Homo sapiens: one gene and its partner. The protein of the gene in region 1 interacts with the protein of each later gene in a pairwise test. Each region holds a gene or a part of one and is shown on either strand. Other genes may lie near its edges.

Region 1 (8,744 bases):
TGTATACCTTGGGCAGAGACTCCAGAAGAAATCGTGGCTTAAGTGAGTCACAAAAAAAGGCTTGTTTGTGCTTGATGTCAGCTTGTAAAGGGTTACAAATGTTGTTTTCCTGGAAAATCTGCCAGCATGTCTGCGTGTCCCTAGCCTTCCCTTTGTTCTCTTCTTTTCTTCTTACCCTTTCCTTCACTCTTACTCCCCTCCTCCTCTTGCCTGAATACGTTCTGAAAACAGTACTACAATGCTCCCTGCTTCAAGATTACAGTGTACTTTACTAGGTATGATTTAATTAGGGCCCTTATTATGTTTTCAGCAGCTTAAGGTGGGCCTTTCAACTTATCTACCTAATTGGTTGCACAAGAAGTTTCACAGCCCATGACAAAACATTGTCAGTGATCAAAGTCAAAATTCTGCATAAAGGAAAAATATTAATAAGAAGATTATTCTTCAAGTGTGCACTGCTAATTATGTCCAGAATGTAACCGTAGAAACACTTTTGACTGATGTGAGCTTTGTCTAATAAACATGAATCTTCAGTGAGCTATGAAAAGTGAGACACCTCTAGCTTTACACTGGTGAAGGCTAATTTTGCTTATTAAATAATTTTTAAACATTTCCTATTTTGTGTCGCTTTCCTCTCCATTTGACTCTCCTTGCTCTTGCTCCTCAGGTGACCACCCCTGAGATGGTGATGCCAAGCAGCATGTTCCTCCCAGCAGCTGTTCCAGATCGAGATGGGAATTCCAATTTGGAAGAGGCAGGAAAGCAGCCTGGTCAGTATCATTATTCTTGACCCCAAGAAATTGAAACAAGATGGAATGCCAAAATGTTCATGGAGAAAGGTTTTCAGGAATTCTTTACAATACTCTTAAGGTGAATGTAACTGATCAGGAGATGAGGGGCACTGTCATCAGCTACTTTATACTCTGCTTCTTGGCATGTATTTGTATATTACTCACATGGTTTAAAGTGAGAGAAAATTAGTATGAGAACCAGTGGAATTCTGGCACAGACACACACATCTTCTTAAACTATACAATTAGGGAGTGAATAACCAGAGACTCAGTCAGTAGGCCCTACCATTCTAAGCCATTAAACACTGTATTTCTGAGGACTTAATTAGTAGGGACTTGTGGGTTGATTTTTAGGTACACTGGATTAGTTGTCTTTCGTTCTGAGTTTTTTGGGATTGGCTTAGGATGAAGCACAGAGATGCTGATGGAAAGAACATTGTTGTAGACAGTAGTTGGTGCCACATAGTGTTTCCTGGCTAGATGAATGGTTAGACCTCTGTGAGGCTGTCCTACATCGTTCACCTCTAAGGTGGGAAGAGTTCTAAGTTGGGAAGAGTTTGGCCACACTACTGTCCTGCCTTCTCTCTTTCTTGTGAGTTTTCCATATTAGACAATGGACAAATGACCTGTTAAAGGGTCTCGGTATTTATGAGTGTGATGATCTCATTGTAGGGAAAAAAATGTATTTTAAATAATTGAACACTTGAATGTTAATTGCTTATTGAATAGAGATGGCAATCAGAAGTCACATTATAACAAGAAATTAAATGCCTAAAAATATGTATCCCCAAATTTCTTATATTACGATGTTCAGCAGTTCTTGTAAATTCCTCACAACTTAGGACAGCATTAATTCACATATTCTACACTTCAGATCTACTGTGCTAAATGCTTATTACATAAAAGATGAACATAAAAGGGAAATCCAGTCTAAGATCAGTAACCTTCAAACCAGCTCTTGAGAAATTGAGGATTCTGAGTCAAGCAATTAAATGCTATTTAAAAGACTGTTAGATCTGTGATATGACATGGGTCTATTATGCATTGAAACTTTTTGTATTTCCTTTTATCCATCTCTGTTCATGTGCACCCTGTTTATAATATGTGCTCTATTGGAGGAACAAAAGAAAGCAGGAGGCGCTCCGCAGAGATTCTGTCATTCAGGTTGGGCACTTCCCTCATCATCAGATTCTGTGTTCATGAGGCCTGACTAGGTAGACCGCTCTGGGTGCCATCCTTGAAACAAAGCCTTCTTTATCTTTGGGTTTGATTTTTTTTTTTTTTTTAACAGAAACCTCAGAGGATCTGGGAAAGAACATCTTGCCATCCGCAAGCACAGAGCAAAGCGGAGATTTGAAACCATCCCCTGCTGACCCAGGCTCTGTGAGAGAAGACTCAGGCTTCATCTGCTGGAAGAAGGGGTGCAACCAGGTTTTCAAAACTTCTGCTGCCCTTCAGACGCATTTTAATGAAGTGCATGCCAAGAGGCCTCAGCTGCCGGTGTCAGATCGCCATGTGTACAAGTACCGCTGTAATCAGTGTAGCCTGGCCTTCAAGACCATTGAAAAGTTGCAGCTCCATTCTCAGTACCATGTGATCAGAGCTGCCACCATGTGCTGTCTTTGTCAGCGCAGTTTCCGAACTTTCCAGGCTCTGAAGAAGCACCTTGAGACAAGCCACCTGGAGCTGAGTGAGGCTGACATCCAACAGCTTTATGGTGGCCTGCTGGCCAATGGGGACCTCCTGGCAATGGGAGACCCCACTCTGGCAGAGGACCATACCATAATTGTTGAGGAAGACAAGGAGGAAGAGAGTGACTTGGAAGATAAACAGAGCCCAACGGGCAGTGACTCTGGGTCAGTACAAGAAGACTCGGGCTCAGAGCCAAAGAGAGCTCTGCCTTTCAGAAAAGGTCCCAATTTTACTATGGAAAAGTTCCTAGACCCTTCTCGCCCTTACAAGTGTACCGTCTGCAAGGAATCTTTCACTCAAAAGAATATCCTGCTAGTACACTACAATTCTGTCTCCCACCTGCATAAGTTAAAGAGAGCCCTTCAAGAATCAGCAACCGGTCAGCCAGAACCCACCAGCAGCCCAGACAACAAACCTTTTAAGTGTAACACTTGTAATGTGGCCTACAGCCAGAGTTCCACTCTGGAGATCCATATGAGGTCTGTGTTACATCAAACCAAGGCCCGGGCAGCCAAGCTGGAGGCTGCAAGTGGCAGCAGCAATGGGACTGGGAACAGCAGCAGTATTTCCTTGAGCTCCTCCACGCCAAGTCCTGTGAGCACCAGTGGCAGTAACACCTTTACCACCTCCAATCCAAGCAGTGCTGGCATTGCTCCAAGCTCTAACTTACTAAGCCAAGTGCCCACTGAGAGTGTAGGGATGCCACCCCTGGGGAATCCTATTGGTGCCAACATTGCTTCCCCTTCAGAGCCCAAAGAGGCCAATCGGAAGAAACTGGCAGATATGATTGCATCCAGGCAGCAGCAACAACAGCAGCAGCAACAGCAACAACAACAACAACAACAACAACAACAAGCACAAACGCTGGCCCAGGCCCAGGCTCAAGTTCAAGCTCACCTGCAGCAGGAGCTGCAGCAACAGGCTGCCCTGATCCAGTCTCAGCTGTTTAACCCCACCCTCCTTCCTCACTTCCCCATGACAACTGAGACCCTGCTGCAACTACAGCAGCAGCAGCACCTCCTCTTCCCTTTCTACATCCCCAGTGCTGAGTTCCAGCTTAACCCCGAGGTGAGCTTGCCAGTGACCAGTGGGGCACTGACACTGACTGGGACAGGCCCAGGCCTGCTGGAAGATCTGAAGGCTCAGGTTCAGGTCCCACAGCAGAGCCATCAGCAGATCTTGCCGCAGCAGCAGCAGAACCAACTCTCTATAGCCCAGAGTCACTCTGCCCTCCTTCAGCCAAGCCAGCACCCCGAAAAGAAGAACAAATTGGTCATCAAAGAAAAGGAAAAAGAAAGCCAGAGAGAGAGGGACAGCGCCGAGGGGGGAGAGGGCAACACCGGTCCGAAGGAAACACTGCCAGATGCCTTGAAGGCCAAAGAGAAGAAAGAGTTGGCACCAGGGGGTGGTTCTGAGCCTTCCATGCTCCCTCCACGCATTGCTTCAGATGCCAGAGGGAACGCCACCAAGGCCCTGCTGGAGAACTTTGGCTTTGAGTTGGTCATCCAGTATAATGAGAACAAGCAGAAGGTGCAGAAAAAGAATGGGAAGACTGACCAGGGAGAGAACCTGGAAAAGCTCGAGTGTGACTCCTGCGGCAAGTTGTTTTCCAACATCTTGATTTTAAAGAGTCATCAAGAGCACGTTCATCAGAATTACTTTCCTTTCAAACAGCTCGAGAGGTTTGCCAAACAGTACAGAGACCACTACGATAAACTGTACCCACTGAGGCCCCAGACCCCAGAGCCACCACCACCTCCCCCTCCACCCCCTCCACCCCCACTTCCGGCAGCGCCGCCTCAGCCGGCGTCCACACCAGCCATCCCCGCATCAGCCCCACCCATCACCTCACCTACAATTGCACCGGCCCAGCCATCAGTGCCGCTCACCCAGCTCTCCATGCCGATGGAGCTGCCCATCTTCTCGCCGCTGATGATGCAGACGATGCCGCTGCAGACCTTGCCGGCTCAGCTACCCCCGCAGCTGGGACCTGTGGAGCCTCTGCCTGCGGACCTGGCCCAACTCTACCAGCATCAGCTCAATCCAACCCTGCTCCAGCAGCAGAACAAGAGGCCTCGCACCAGGATCACAGATGATCAGCTCCGAGTCTTGCGGCAATATTTTGACATTAACAACTCCCCCAGTGAAGAGCAAATAAAAGAGATGGCAGACAAGTCCGGGTTGCCCCAGAAAGTGATCAAGCACTGGTTCAGGAACACTCTCTTCAAAGAGAGGCAGCGTAACAAGGACTCCCCTTACAACTTCAGTAATCCTCCTATCACCAGCCTGGAGGAGCTCAAGATTGACTCCCGGCCCCCTTCGCCGGAACCTCCAAAGCAGGAGTACTGGGGAAGCAAGAGGTCTTCAAGAACAAGGTTTACGGACTACCAGCTGAGGGTCTTACAGGACTTCTTCGATGCCAATGCTTACCCAAAGGATGATGAATTTGAGCAACTCTCTAATTTACTGAACCTTCCAACCCGAGTGATAGTGGTGTGGTTTCAGAATGCCCGACAGAAGGCCAGGAAGAATTATGAGAATCAGGGAGAGGGCAAAGATGGAGAGCGGCGTGAGCTTACAAATGATAGATACATTCGAACAAGCAACTTGAACTACCAGTGCAAAAAATGTAGCCTGGTGTTTCAGCGCATCTTTGATCTCATCAAGCACCAGAAGAAGCTGTGTTACAAGGATGAGGATGAGGAGGGGCAGGACGACAGCCAAAATGAGGATTCCATGGATGCCATGGAAATCCTGACGCCTACCAGCTCATCCTGCAGTACCCCGATGCCCTCACAGGCTTACAGCGCCCCAGCACCATCAGCCAATAATACAGCTTCCTCCGCTTTCTTGCAGCTTACAGCGGAGGCTGAGGAACTGGCCACCTTCAATTCAAAAACAGAGGCAGGCGATGAGAAACCAAAGCTGGCGGAAGCTCCCAGTGCACAGCCAAACCAAACCCAAGAAAAGCAAGGACAACCAAAGCCAGAGCTGCAGCAGCAAGAGCAGCCCGAGCAGAAGACCAACACTCCCCAGCAGAAGCTCCCCCAGCTGGTGTCCCTGCCTTCGTTGCCACAGCCTCCTCCACAAGCGCCCCCTCCACAGTGCCCCTTACCCCAGTCGAGCCCCAGTCCTTCCCAGCTCTCCCACCTGCCCCTCAAGCCCCTCCACACATCAACTCCTCAACAGCTCGCAAACCTACCTCCTCAGCTAATCCCCTACCAGTGTGACCAGTGTAAGTTGGCATTTCCGTCATTTGAGCACTGGCAGGAGCATCAGCAGCTCCACTTCCTGAGCGCGCAGAACCAGTTCATCCACCCCCAGTTTTTGGACAGGTCCCTGGATATGCCTTTCATGCTCTTTGATCCCAGTAACCCACTCCTGGCCAGCCAGCTGCTCTCTGGGGCCATACCTCAGATTCCAGCAAGCTCAGCCACTTCTCCTTCAACTCCAACCTCCACAATGAACACTCTCAAGAGGAAGCTGGAGGAAAAGGCCAGTGCAAGCCCTGGCGAAAACGACAGTGGGACAGGAGGAGAAGAGCCTCAGAGAGACAAGCGTTTGAGAACAACCATCACACCGGAACAACTAGAAATTCTCTACCAGAAGTATCTACTGGATTCCAATCCGACTCGAAAGATGTTGGATCACATTGCACACGAGGTGGGCTTGAAGAAACGTGTGGTACAAGTCTGGTTTCAGAACACCCGAGCTCGGGAAAGGAAAGGACAGTTCCGGGCTGTAGGCCCAGCGCAGGCCCACAGGAGATGCCCTTTTTGCAGAGCGCTCTTCAAAGCCAAGACTGCTCTTGAGGCTCATATCCGGTCCCGTCACTGGCATGAAGCCAAGAGAGCTGGCTACAACCTAACTCTGTCTGCGATGCTCTTAGACTGTGATGGGGGACTCCAGATGAAAGGAGATATTTTTGACGGAACTAGCTTTTCCCACCTACCCCCAAGCAGTAGTGATGGTCAGGGTGTCCCCCTCTCACCTGTGAGTAAAACCATGGAATTGTCACCCAGAACTCTTCTAAGCCCTTCCTCCATTAAGGTGGAAGGGATTGAAGACTTTGAAAGCCCCTCCATGTCCTCAGTTAATCTAAACTTTGACCAAACTAAGCTGGACAACGATGACTGTTCCTCTGTCAACACAGCAATCACAGATACCACAACTGGAGACGAGGGCAACGCAGATAACGACAGTGCAACGGGAATAGCAACTGAAACCAAATCCTCTTCTGCACCCAACGAAGGGTTGACCAAAGCGGCCATGATGGCAATGTCTGAGTATGAAGATCGGTTGTCATCTGGTCTGGTCAGCCCGGCCCCGAGCTTTTATAGCAAGGAATATGACAATGAAGGTACAGTGGACTACAGTGAAACCTCAAGCCTTGCAGATCCCTGCTCCCCGAGTCCTGGTGCGAGTGGATCTGCAGGCAAATCTGGTGACAGCGGAGATCGGCCTGGGCAGAAACGTTTTCGCACTCAAATGACCAATCTGCAGCTGAAGGTCCTCAAGTCATGCTTTAATGACTACAGGACACCCACTATGCTAGAATGTGAGGTCCTGGGCAATGACATTGGACTGCCAAAGAGAGTCGTTCAGGTCTGGTTCCAGAATGCCCGGGCAAAAGAAAAGAAGTCCAAGTTAAGCATGGCCAAGCATTTTGGTATAAACCAAACGAGTTATGAGGGACCCAAAACAGAGTGCACTTTGTGTGGCATCAAGTACAGCGCTCGGCTGTCTGTACGTGACCATATCTTTTCCCAACAGCATATCTCCAAAGTTAAAGACACCATTGGAAGCCAGCTGGACAAGGAGAAAGAATACTTTGACCCAGCCACCGTACGTCAGTTGATGGCTCAACAAGAGTTGGACCGGATTAAAAAGGCCAACGAGGTCCTTGGACTGGCAGCTCAGCAGCAAGGGATGTTTGACAACACCCCTCTTCAGGCCCTTAACCTTCCTACAGCATATCCAGCGCTCCAGGGCATTCCTCCTGTGTTGCTCCCGGGCCTCAACAGCCCCTCCTTGCCAGGCTTTACTCCATCCAACACAGGTGGGTTCTGCTCTAGGCGATTGTTTCAGGGCTAAATAGCTGCCCAGTCAGCATTCTGTTATGTGGATACCACCCAAACCCTCTGAGTGCTGGGCAGATGGGAAGCTTACCTTTCTAGTTCTTTAAAAGCAACAAGACTTCAGTTCGTTCCTGTTGAGTCTCCCAAGTACTGGTGTGTCAGGGATGGGACCTCCTGGTCGGAACAGTCTCCTTTGAAACCACTCTTATCCCCTATAATAGGGAAAAACTTGAGGGTCCTGGCATACTAATTTCTGGAATATTTCAAGAAACAAGTTTTTATCATAGACCCTTTCATTCAGTCCTTGTGGAAATGCTGATCCTGTCTAGATATTTGTTGTAAATATAAGACACCTGAGTTAGTCCTAGCTAATTCTGGATTATGCCCTAAGAAAACTGGTCCAAGAGCATTTAAATCAACTCTTTGCCCTCACCTGGGGTCCCTGCCTTCTTGAGAGAGCTACGGTGGCAAAAGAACTGCTATCAGGGCCGGGTGCAGTGGTTCATGCCTGTAATCCCAGCACTTTGGGAGGCCGAGGCGGGCAGATCACAAGGTCAGGAAATCGAGACCAGCCTGGCCAACATGGTGAAACCCCATCTCTACTAAAAATACAAAAATTACCCAAGTGTGGTGGTATGCACCTATAGTCCCAGCTATTCGGGAGGCTGAGGCAGGAGAATCGCTTGAACCCTGGAGGCAGACAGTGGTTTGAGATTGTGCCACTGCACTCCAGCCTGGGTGACACAGCGAGACTGTCTCAAAAAAAGAAAAAAAAAAGAACTACCAGAAGGTCTTATGTGGTAGATCCTTAATGTTGGGGTTCTCTTCTAGCCAGAACAATAGTGGCTGTTTTTAACAAGATGGCCGTTCTACTTGAGTGCACTGACCAGGAATCTTGTATTGGGCAATGTGGTTCTGTTAAAATACTGATGCACATTTCAGAGGTCCTCAGTCACCTCTTTTTTTTCCTTTTGCCCATTTCCTTTTCCTTGCTCCTGATCACTGAGAATCATACATATTTGTTGCTCTTATAGTCTCACTTAATAGGGAGTTTTGCAGTTCTTCCTACATACTTCTCTTGTTTCTCCTTCTCTGTCCTCACATCTTCTCTGGATCCAGCCATCTTTGCTAAATTGGACCTTCACCTCCAGGGTCCTGTTAGGCTTAGACATAAGTCTGCAAA
Region 2 (8,000 bases), on another chromosome or scaffold:
AAGCCCCCTTCAATGCCCTGGGCGTTCAGTCCTTCCAGCCCGACGCAGGCTTATCCAGGGTGATGGTCCCCAGGATACACAAGAAGAGACCAGGGTTCACAGAGGCCAAGGGCTCTTGGCAAGCAGGGGCTGAACTGGGATCTGACACCCACCAGGCTCCATGGCCCATGCGCCTGACTGTTAACACTTCACGGGGACGCCTGCCAGCCCCAGCAGCCTGGACTCAGACCCAGGGCACACCACTCAGGCTCCAGGGAGGCCCAGTGGGGTGACACCAGCACATGGAGGTTCTATGACTGCGGCAGCCGCTCTGAGACGGTGCCTGGTGCCACCATCATCCCCACCCACCCCCGCCAAGTCCTGTGCCTCCAGTCCCCTGACCCCACCTCACACCCCATCCGTGGCCACCCTCGCCCTCCTGCCCCACCACCTACCGTGACCATCTGGCCGGCGCGCAGGATGTACTTGGGCGTGAACTTGTAGGCGATCTCCTCCCCCTCCAAGACCTGCCTCTTGATTCTCCAGTTCCCCAGAGACTGATCCTGGAAGACACGGCACACACCTGACCCTCAGCCACCAGGACTGTGACACCGCCCCCATCGCCCTGGCTGGTGGCCCCATCACCCTGACCCTGGTCACCCCCACCAGCTAGGTCACCCCATTACCCCCATGCCCTGGTCATTCCAGTCACCTTGTCCCCTGCCTCGTCCTGACCGGCGGCCCTGTCACCCTGACCCTGGTCACCCCCATCAGCTAGGTCACTCCATTACCCCTGTGCCCCGGTCTTTCCAGTCATCTTGTCCCCTGCCTCGCATTGGCCGGCAGCCCCGTCACCCTGACCCTGGTCACCCCATCAGCTGGGTCACCCCGTTACCCCCATGCCCCGGTCTTTCCGGTCACCTTGTCCCCTGCCTCGCATTGGCCGGCGGCCCCGTCACCCTGACCCTGGTCACCCCATCAGCTGGGTCACCCCGTTACCCCCATGCCCCGGTCTTTCCGGTCACCTTGTCCCCTGCCTCGCATTGGCCGGCGGCCCCGTCACCCTGACCCTGATCACCCCCATCAGCTGGGTCACCCCGTTACCCCCATGCCCCGGTCATTCCAGTCACCTTGTCCCCTGCCTCGCATTGGCCGGCGGCCCCGTCACCCTGATCCTGGTCACCCCCATCAGCTGGGTCACCCCGTTACCCCCATGCCCCGGTCTTTCCGGTCACCTTGTCCCCTGCCTCGTATTGGCCGGCGGCCCCGTCACCCTGACCCTGATCACCCCCATCAGCTGGGTCACCCCGTTACCCCCATGCCCCGGTCATTCCGGTCACCTTGTCCCCTGCCTCGTATTGGCCGGCGGCCCCGTCACCCTGACCCTGATCACCCCCATCAGCTGGGTCACCCCGTTACCCCCATGCCCCAGTCATTCCGGTCACCTTGTCCCCTGCCTCGCATTGGCCGACAGCCCCGTCACCCTGACCCTGGTCACCCCCATCAGCTGGGTCACCCCGTTACCCCCATGCCCCGGTCATTCCGGTCACCTTGTCCCCTGCCTCGCATTGGCCGACGGCCCCGTCACCCTGACCCTGGTCACCCCCATCAGCTGGGTCACCCCGTTACCCCCATGCCCCGGTCATTCCGGTCACCTTGTCCCCTGCCTCGTATTGGCCGGCGGCCCCGTCACCCTGACCCTGATCACCCCCATCAGCTGGGTCACCCCGTTACCCCCATGCCCCGGTCATTCCGGTCACCTTGTCCCCTGCCTCGCATTGGCCGGCAGCCCCGTCACCCTGACCCTGGTCACCCCCATCAGCTGGGTCACCCCGTTACCCCCATGCCCCGGTCTTTCCGGTCACCTTGTCCGAGTTGTTCTTGAGCTGCACAAACTTGCCCTCCAGGTCGATCTCCTCGATGCTGACGCTACCCGAGGCCGAGGCCTGCTGGGCCAGGTGGAAGCCACCGCTGCCACCCGTGCCCGTGCCCAGGACGCTTGGGCCGCTGCCCAAGGGCTCCTCCACCTCCAGCCGCTTCCGCTTACTGCGGCCCAGGCGCCCGGTGGCGGACAAGCTGCCGCTGCTGCTCGAGGTGGCTCGTGAGACGGTGACGCGCGAGGATGGGCTGGGGGACAGCTTCAGCCTGTGGGGAAGGCAAGGAAGGTGGGACTGGTAGTGGGAGCCCCAGACAGCCCAGGGCACGCAGAGTGGCGGCCACGGCCCGGCCCCACCTCCACCCCTGCCCAGCACTCCCCGCAGCCCCGTCCCGCCTCTCCTCCTGCCCTGCCCCTCCTCCTCACTCTGTGCTCCCAAGCCTCCTGGCCTGCCGCACCTCTCCTCCTCGCCCTCCAGGAGCTTCCGGTAGGCGTTGATCTCCATGTCCAGGGCCAGCTTCACGTCCAGCAGCTCCTGGTACTCGGCCAGCTGCTGCTGCATCACGTCCCGCATCTCCGTCATCTCCTGCTCCTTGGCGTCCAGCATCTTCCGGAACTTGTCCCGCTCCCCGGCCATGGCCTCCTCCAGCTCCCGAATGCGATCTTCAGCGGCACTGGCCTGCGGAGGGGGCGGGTGGCGAAGGTCAGGGCAGCCCATGGGTCACAAGGCCCAGGTGATCCTGGGACTGCGGGAGATGGGCCCTCACCACAGACTGGGGCAGAGACCAGGCCTGGGCATGGGGCGCACGGGAGGGGAGGGAAGGGGCATCGCTGGGCGCCCCGAGGGCTGCATCCGATGCCAAGAGGCCAGAGCCCCACGCCCCGCACATCCAGGGCAGGGCCCAGAAGTTGGGCCAGGGGGACGGCAGACGGTGGCGCTGTGCTCATCACCTGCTTCTGGAGGCCGGAGAGCTGGTAGCTGAGGGACTCCAGGCGCATGCGGGCCTCCTTCAGCTCCTCGCGAGCCGCACTGGCCGCCTTGTCGTTCTGGTCAGAGCTCAGCTTGGCGCTGTCCAGCTGTGGGGAGACGGGCGGGTGAGTGCGGGCGCGGGGCGGGGCGGGGTTCCCACCGGCCGCCCCCGCCCACCCGCCTGCCGGCCACACCTTGGCCTGGTAGGTCTGCTCCAGCTCCAGCTTGTAGAGCCGCACTTGCTCGTCGTGCTGGCTCCGCAGCTCCTCCAGCGCCTGTGCCATCTTGAAGTCGTACTCCTGCTGCCGGCTGCTGTCCACCTCCACCAGGCGCCGCTCGTGCCGCCGCCGCGTCTCCCGCACCTCCTGCGGACCAAGGCTTCGTGACCCTCTGGTCCCGCCTGGGCCCCAAGCACCAGGCCCAAGGGAGGGCTCAAAAATGTGCCAAGAGGAACCTCCAGGCAATTCCTGGTTCCTTGTGCACAAGTTACAAACCGATACACGTGCAGGTGAGAGGCGACCCAGGGGCCGTCCACGCGCTAGAACGTGACTCAGCCACGAAAAGGAGCGAGGCTCTGACACCGCCACAGCATGGATGCACCTTGAGGACGTCACACTCAATGAGAGACGCCAGACACAAAAGGCCACACGGTGCGTGATCCCATTTCCATGAAATGTCCTGAAATGTCCAGGACAGGCCCATCCACAGAGACAGGGAGGGGATGCGTGGGGGCCAGGGCTGGGGACTGCTGATGGGGAGGGGGTTCTTTTTGGGTGATGGAATGTTCTAGAATTAGAGGTGGTGGTTGCACAACCCTGTGGAGATCCTGCCAATGCTGAACTGTACACTTTAAAAAGGTGGACTTAAAATAGCCAGGTGTGGTGGCGGGCACCTGTGGTCCCAGCTACTCAGGAGGCTGAGACAAGAGAATCGCTTGACCTTGGGAGGTTGCAGTGAGCCAGGATCGCACCATTGCACTCCAACCTGGGTAACAAAGTGAGACTGCGTCTCAAAAAAAAAAAAAGTGACTCTCTCTTATAAAAGCCATTATTGAAGAAAGCGGGCCAGGCGTGGTGGCTCATGCCTGTAATCCCAGCACTTTGGGAGGCTGAGGCAGGCAGATCACGAGGTCAGGAGTTCGAGACCAGCCTAGCCAACATGGTGAAACCCCATCTCTATTAAAAATACAAAAATTAGGCCGGGCACAGTGGCTCAAGCCTGTAATCCCAGCACTTTGGGAGGCTAAGACAGGTGGATCATGAGGTCAGAAGTTCAAGACCAGCCTGACAAACATGGTGAAAACCCCGTCTGTACTAAAAATACAAAAATTAGTCGGGTTGGTGGCACCCGCCTATAATCCCAGCTACTCAGGAGGCTGAGGCAGGAGAATCGCTTGAACCCAGGAGGCGGAGGTTGCAGTGAGCTGAGATCATGCCACCGTACTCCAGCCTGGGTGACAGAGCAAGACTCCGTCTCAAAAGAAAAAAATTAGCTGGGTGTGGTGCTGTGCACCTATAATCCCAGCTACTCGGGAGGCTGGGCCCAGTGTGGGCAACAGAGCAAGACTCCATCTCAAAAACAAAACAAAACAAAACAAAACAAAACAAAAACAGTAGAAACGCTTCTGAAGGAAGCTGGCCACCTTTGCAGTCAGCAAGGCGGGTAGCCCAGGCAAGCAGAGCCCTGCGGGCCGCGCACCCACCTCCACGGCCGCCCTCCCGCCTCCACGGCCGCGCACCCGCCTGCACAGCCGCCCTCCCGCCTTCACGGCTGCGCACCCACCTCCACGGCCGCTCACCCACCTGCACTGCCGCCCTCCCACCCCCACAGCCGCGCACCCACCTCCACGGCCGCCCTCTCGCCTCCACGGCCACCCTCCCGCCACCACGGCCGCGCACCCACCTCCACGGCCGCCCTCCCGCCACCACAGCCGCGCACCCACCTCCACGGCCGCCCTTCCGCCCCCACGGCCGCCCTCTCCAGGACTCCGCACCCTGTGGGCTGCACAGGCCTGCATCATCAAGCTCCCTACCGCAGCTCCCTGTGAGGGCCCCTCCAGGGCCTCTTCCCGGCCCCTGCACCGCCTTCGTGGGTCTTTTCCCAGGTGCCCTGTGGGTTCCACCTGGGGCACGTTCCTGGGCCCCCGCACAGAAGCTCTCGTGAGTCTCTTCACGGGCTGTCTCACAGGTTTCCCCACAGGCCCCTTCACAACTGCCCTGGCGGCCTCCCCTCTGGCTCCTGTGGGGCCCCCCCCACTCCCTGGGCCTGGCCAGAGCGGGGCGCAGCTCCTGAGCGGCCTGGACATCCCTCCACCAGCAGCCAGCAGCTCTCCCTGGGCAGGGAGTGTGGGCCCGGCCGGCCCCGGCATTCCACCCTGCACTGTGACAGCACAATTGGTTCTAAAGGACACAGGCTGACGCCTTTCCTCCCCACTCCCCTCTCCGAGCCCCCGGAGGCAGAGGCCCCAGGTGAGGGGCTGCAGGTCAGGGAAGGAGGCTGGGTGGGGAGAGCGGGCCTCACCCTCGCTTTGGACAAGGAGGCCCTGTGGGAGGCTGGACGGTGGCACCCAGAAGATGCACCTGACGCCTGCCTCATGGTCTAGCAGTTAGGATCCCAGGCGGCCAGGGTTCAGCTCTCAGGGTGGGAACACCAAGCTTTTAGAAAGGCAAGAAATCAAAATAGACCTTCCTTGACACTGAAGAGATATGTTTTGGCTGGGCATGGTGACTCACGCCTGGAATCCCAGCAGTTTGGGAGGCCGAGGCGGATGAAGCACCTGAGGTCAGGAGTTCGAGACCAGCCTGGCCAACGTGGTGAAACCTCGTCTCTACTAAAAATACATAAATTACCTGGGCATGGTGGTGCACGCCTATAATCCAGCTACTCGGGAGGCTGAGGCAGGAGAATTGCTTGAACCTGGGAGGCGGAGGTTGCAGTGAGCCAAGATCGTGCCACCGCACTCCAGCATGGGTGACAGAGTGAAACTCCATCTCAAAAAAAGACGTGCCCACATCCCGATCCCCAGCAGCTGTGAATGGACCTTATTTGGAAATGGGGTCTCTGCAGATGCCATTAGGTCACTCTGGATGATCCAGGCAGGCCCCAAATCCAATGACAAGTGTCCTTGTAGGATACACAGAGTATGGACACAGGGGAGGCAGCCGCGGGAAGACAGAGGCAGACACTGGGGAGACGCAGCCGAAGCCAAGGGCACCCTAAGAGGCAGGAAGGAGCCTCCCTAGAGCCGTGGGAGGGACCCCGGCCACACGGTGCCCTCAGGCTTCCGCCCTCCACAGCCATGAGGGTGGACTTTGCGTTTCCGCTGTGCCAGGCTGGAGGCCAGGCCACTCACTCACCTCCTCGAACACACTCTTCCGGAAGTCCAGCTCCTCCTGCAGGCTCTGGCAGCGGTTCTCCAGGTCCACACGCATCAGCGTCTCCTTCTCCAGCTGCTTTTTGGCCACTGCATGACCGTCCTCGGCCTGGGAGACACAGGACAGCGAGCTGGTGTGACAATCTGTCTGTTGCATATACCCTGCTGGGGCGTCCCGTGGCTCCTGGCACCTACCTTGGCCAGCTGGGCCCGCAGCTCAGCCACGTCACTCTCCAGGCCGCGCTTGTCGCTGAGGGCAGCTGCCAGCTCCACCTCGCTCCGGTGGAACAGGGACTCCAGGTCCTTCACACGGCCCTGGGCCACCGTAAGCTCGCCCTCCCTCTTCTTGGCGCTGAAAGTCAAGAGGGCAAGTGAGTGGGGAGGGGCAAGGTCCATGGGGCCACAGGGAGCACCTCAGGGGGCGTCAGGCAAGCCCAAAGACAAGGTCACCGAGGCCTCCGAGCCCCAGACCTTCCCGTCCTGCAGACGACGCGGCCCCACGCGCCCAGGCAAAGGCACACGTGCCCTCATCATCTGCCCTGCACTGTCAGGAGTCCAGCAAGTGACAGGCACCAGCGCTTGGGACCACCCTGGAGGCATGGGCTTTCCCAGCCTCTCCTGCCTGTTCTGGACCCAGGACGACCATTTGGGGAGAAATTAATGCATCCTCTGTAAATGTTACAAAGACCCTGGCCTTTGAAGGGTCAGCCTTGTTTGTAAACTTAAGCTGTCTGAAGCAGGCTCACCTGGTTTTCCACTAAACCAAATTAGCTCCAACATTAGATATTTAAGATAGCAAATACTCAGGCTTTTTAAACACACAAATACTACCAGTGTGGATTGTAGGCACTTAAGCTTTTTTTTTTTTTTTTTTTTTTTTTTTTTTAAGAGACAGGGGTTCACTTGTTTGCACAGGCTGGTCTCGAACTCCTGGGCTCAAGGAATCCTCCTGTCTCAGCCTCCCAAAGTGCTGGGATTACAGGTGCGAGCCACCGCGTACGGCTGACTCTTAAATGTTTTTAAGCATAATTATAAGTCTTGGAGCTGAATTTTACCCCCTCCCGACAGGGAACTAACTATATCCTCCCAAGAAACAGTGAGGACACCCAGGGTTCCGCAGCGTCACAACTGCTGACATCTGGGGTGGTCTTGAGTGAGGGCACCCAGGGTTCTGCAGCGTCACAACTGCTGACATTTGGGGTGGTCGAGTGAGGACATCCAGGGTTCCGCAGCGTCACAACTGCTGACATTTGGGGTGGTCCTAGGCACTGCAGGGTGCTGAGCACTGTCCCTGGCCTCCACCCACTTCAGACCAGGAGCTTCTTGCTGCCCAGTTTTGACAACCACAAGTGTCCCCAGGAATCACCCAGTGTCCCCTGGGGACAGAATCACCCCAGGATGGGGACAACTGGGTGTATCTGGAATAACACAGCCAAGGCTGCTGGCTGGACATTCAAAGAACATCCACATCCAGGCGGCTCGAGCCCGTGGCCAGAGGTCAGAAGTGACAGGGACCTCTCCTGCCCAGCAGAATGCACTCCCGACTCTCCCTAGAGCCTTTTTTTTTTTTTGAGTTGGAGTTTCGCTCTTGTTGCCCAGGCTGGATTGCAATGGCGTGATCTCGGCTCACTGCAACCTCCGCCTCCCGGGTTCAAACAATTCTCCTGCCTCAGCCTCCTGTGTAGCTGGGATTACAGGCATGCGCCACCAGCGTCCGCTAATTTTTTATTTTTAGTAGAGATGGGGTTTCTCCATGTTGGCCAGGCTGGTCTCGAACTCCCAACCTCAGGTGATCTGCCCGC

Evidence for each region. Proteins that work in one complex are often made in the same cells at the same time.
Region 2: the proteins of ZFHX3 (region 1) and LMNB2 interact in binary tests that used the Homo sapiens proteins (3 or more experiments, as listed by UniProt).

The regions. Positions count from the first base shown.
Region 1 is NC_000016.10:72,792,053-72,800,796, reverse strand, and holds part of ZFHX3 (zinc finger homeobox protein 3), read left to right. Parts: intron 1-667; coding exon 668-770; intron 771-2,082; coding exon 2,083-7,542; intron 7,543-8,744.
Region 2 is NC_000019.10:2,431,982-2,439,981, forward strand, and holds part of LMNB2 (lamin-B2), read right to left. Parts: intron 6,551-8,000; coding exon 6,394-6,550; intron 6,308-6,393; coding exon 6,182-6,307; intron 3,191-6,181; coding exon 3,020-3,190; exon of another isoform or gene 2,933-3,019; coding exon 2,807-2,932; intron 2,535-2,806; coding exon 2,314-2,534; intron 2,125-2,313; coding exon 1,845-2,124; intron 543-1,844; coding exon 435-542; intron 1-434. UniProt on the Homo sapiens protein: Lamins are intermediate filament proteins that assemble into a filamentous meshwork, and which constitute the major components of the nuclear lamina, a fibrous layer on the nucleoplasmic side of the inner nuclear membrane.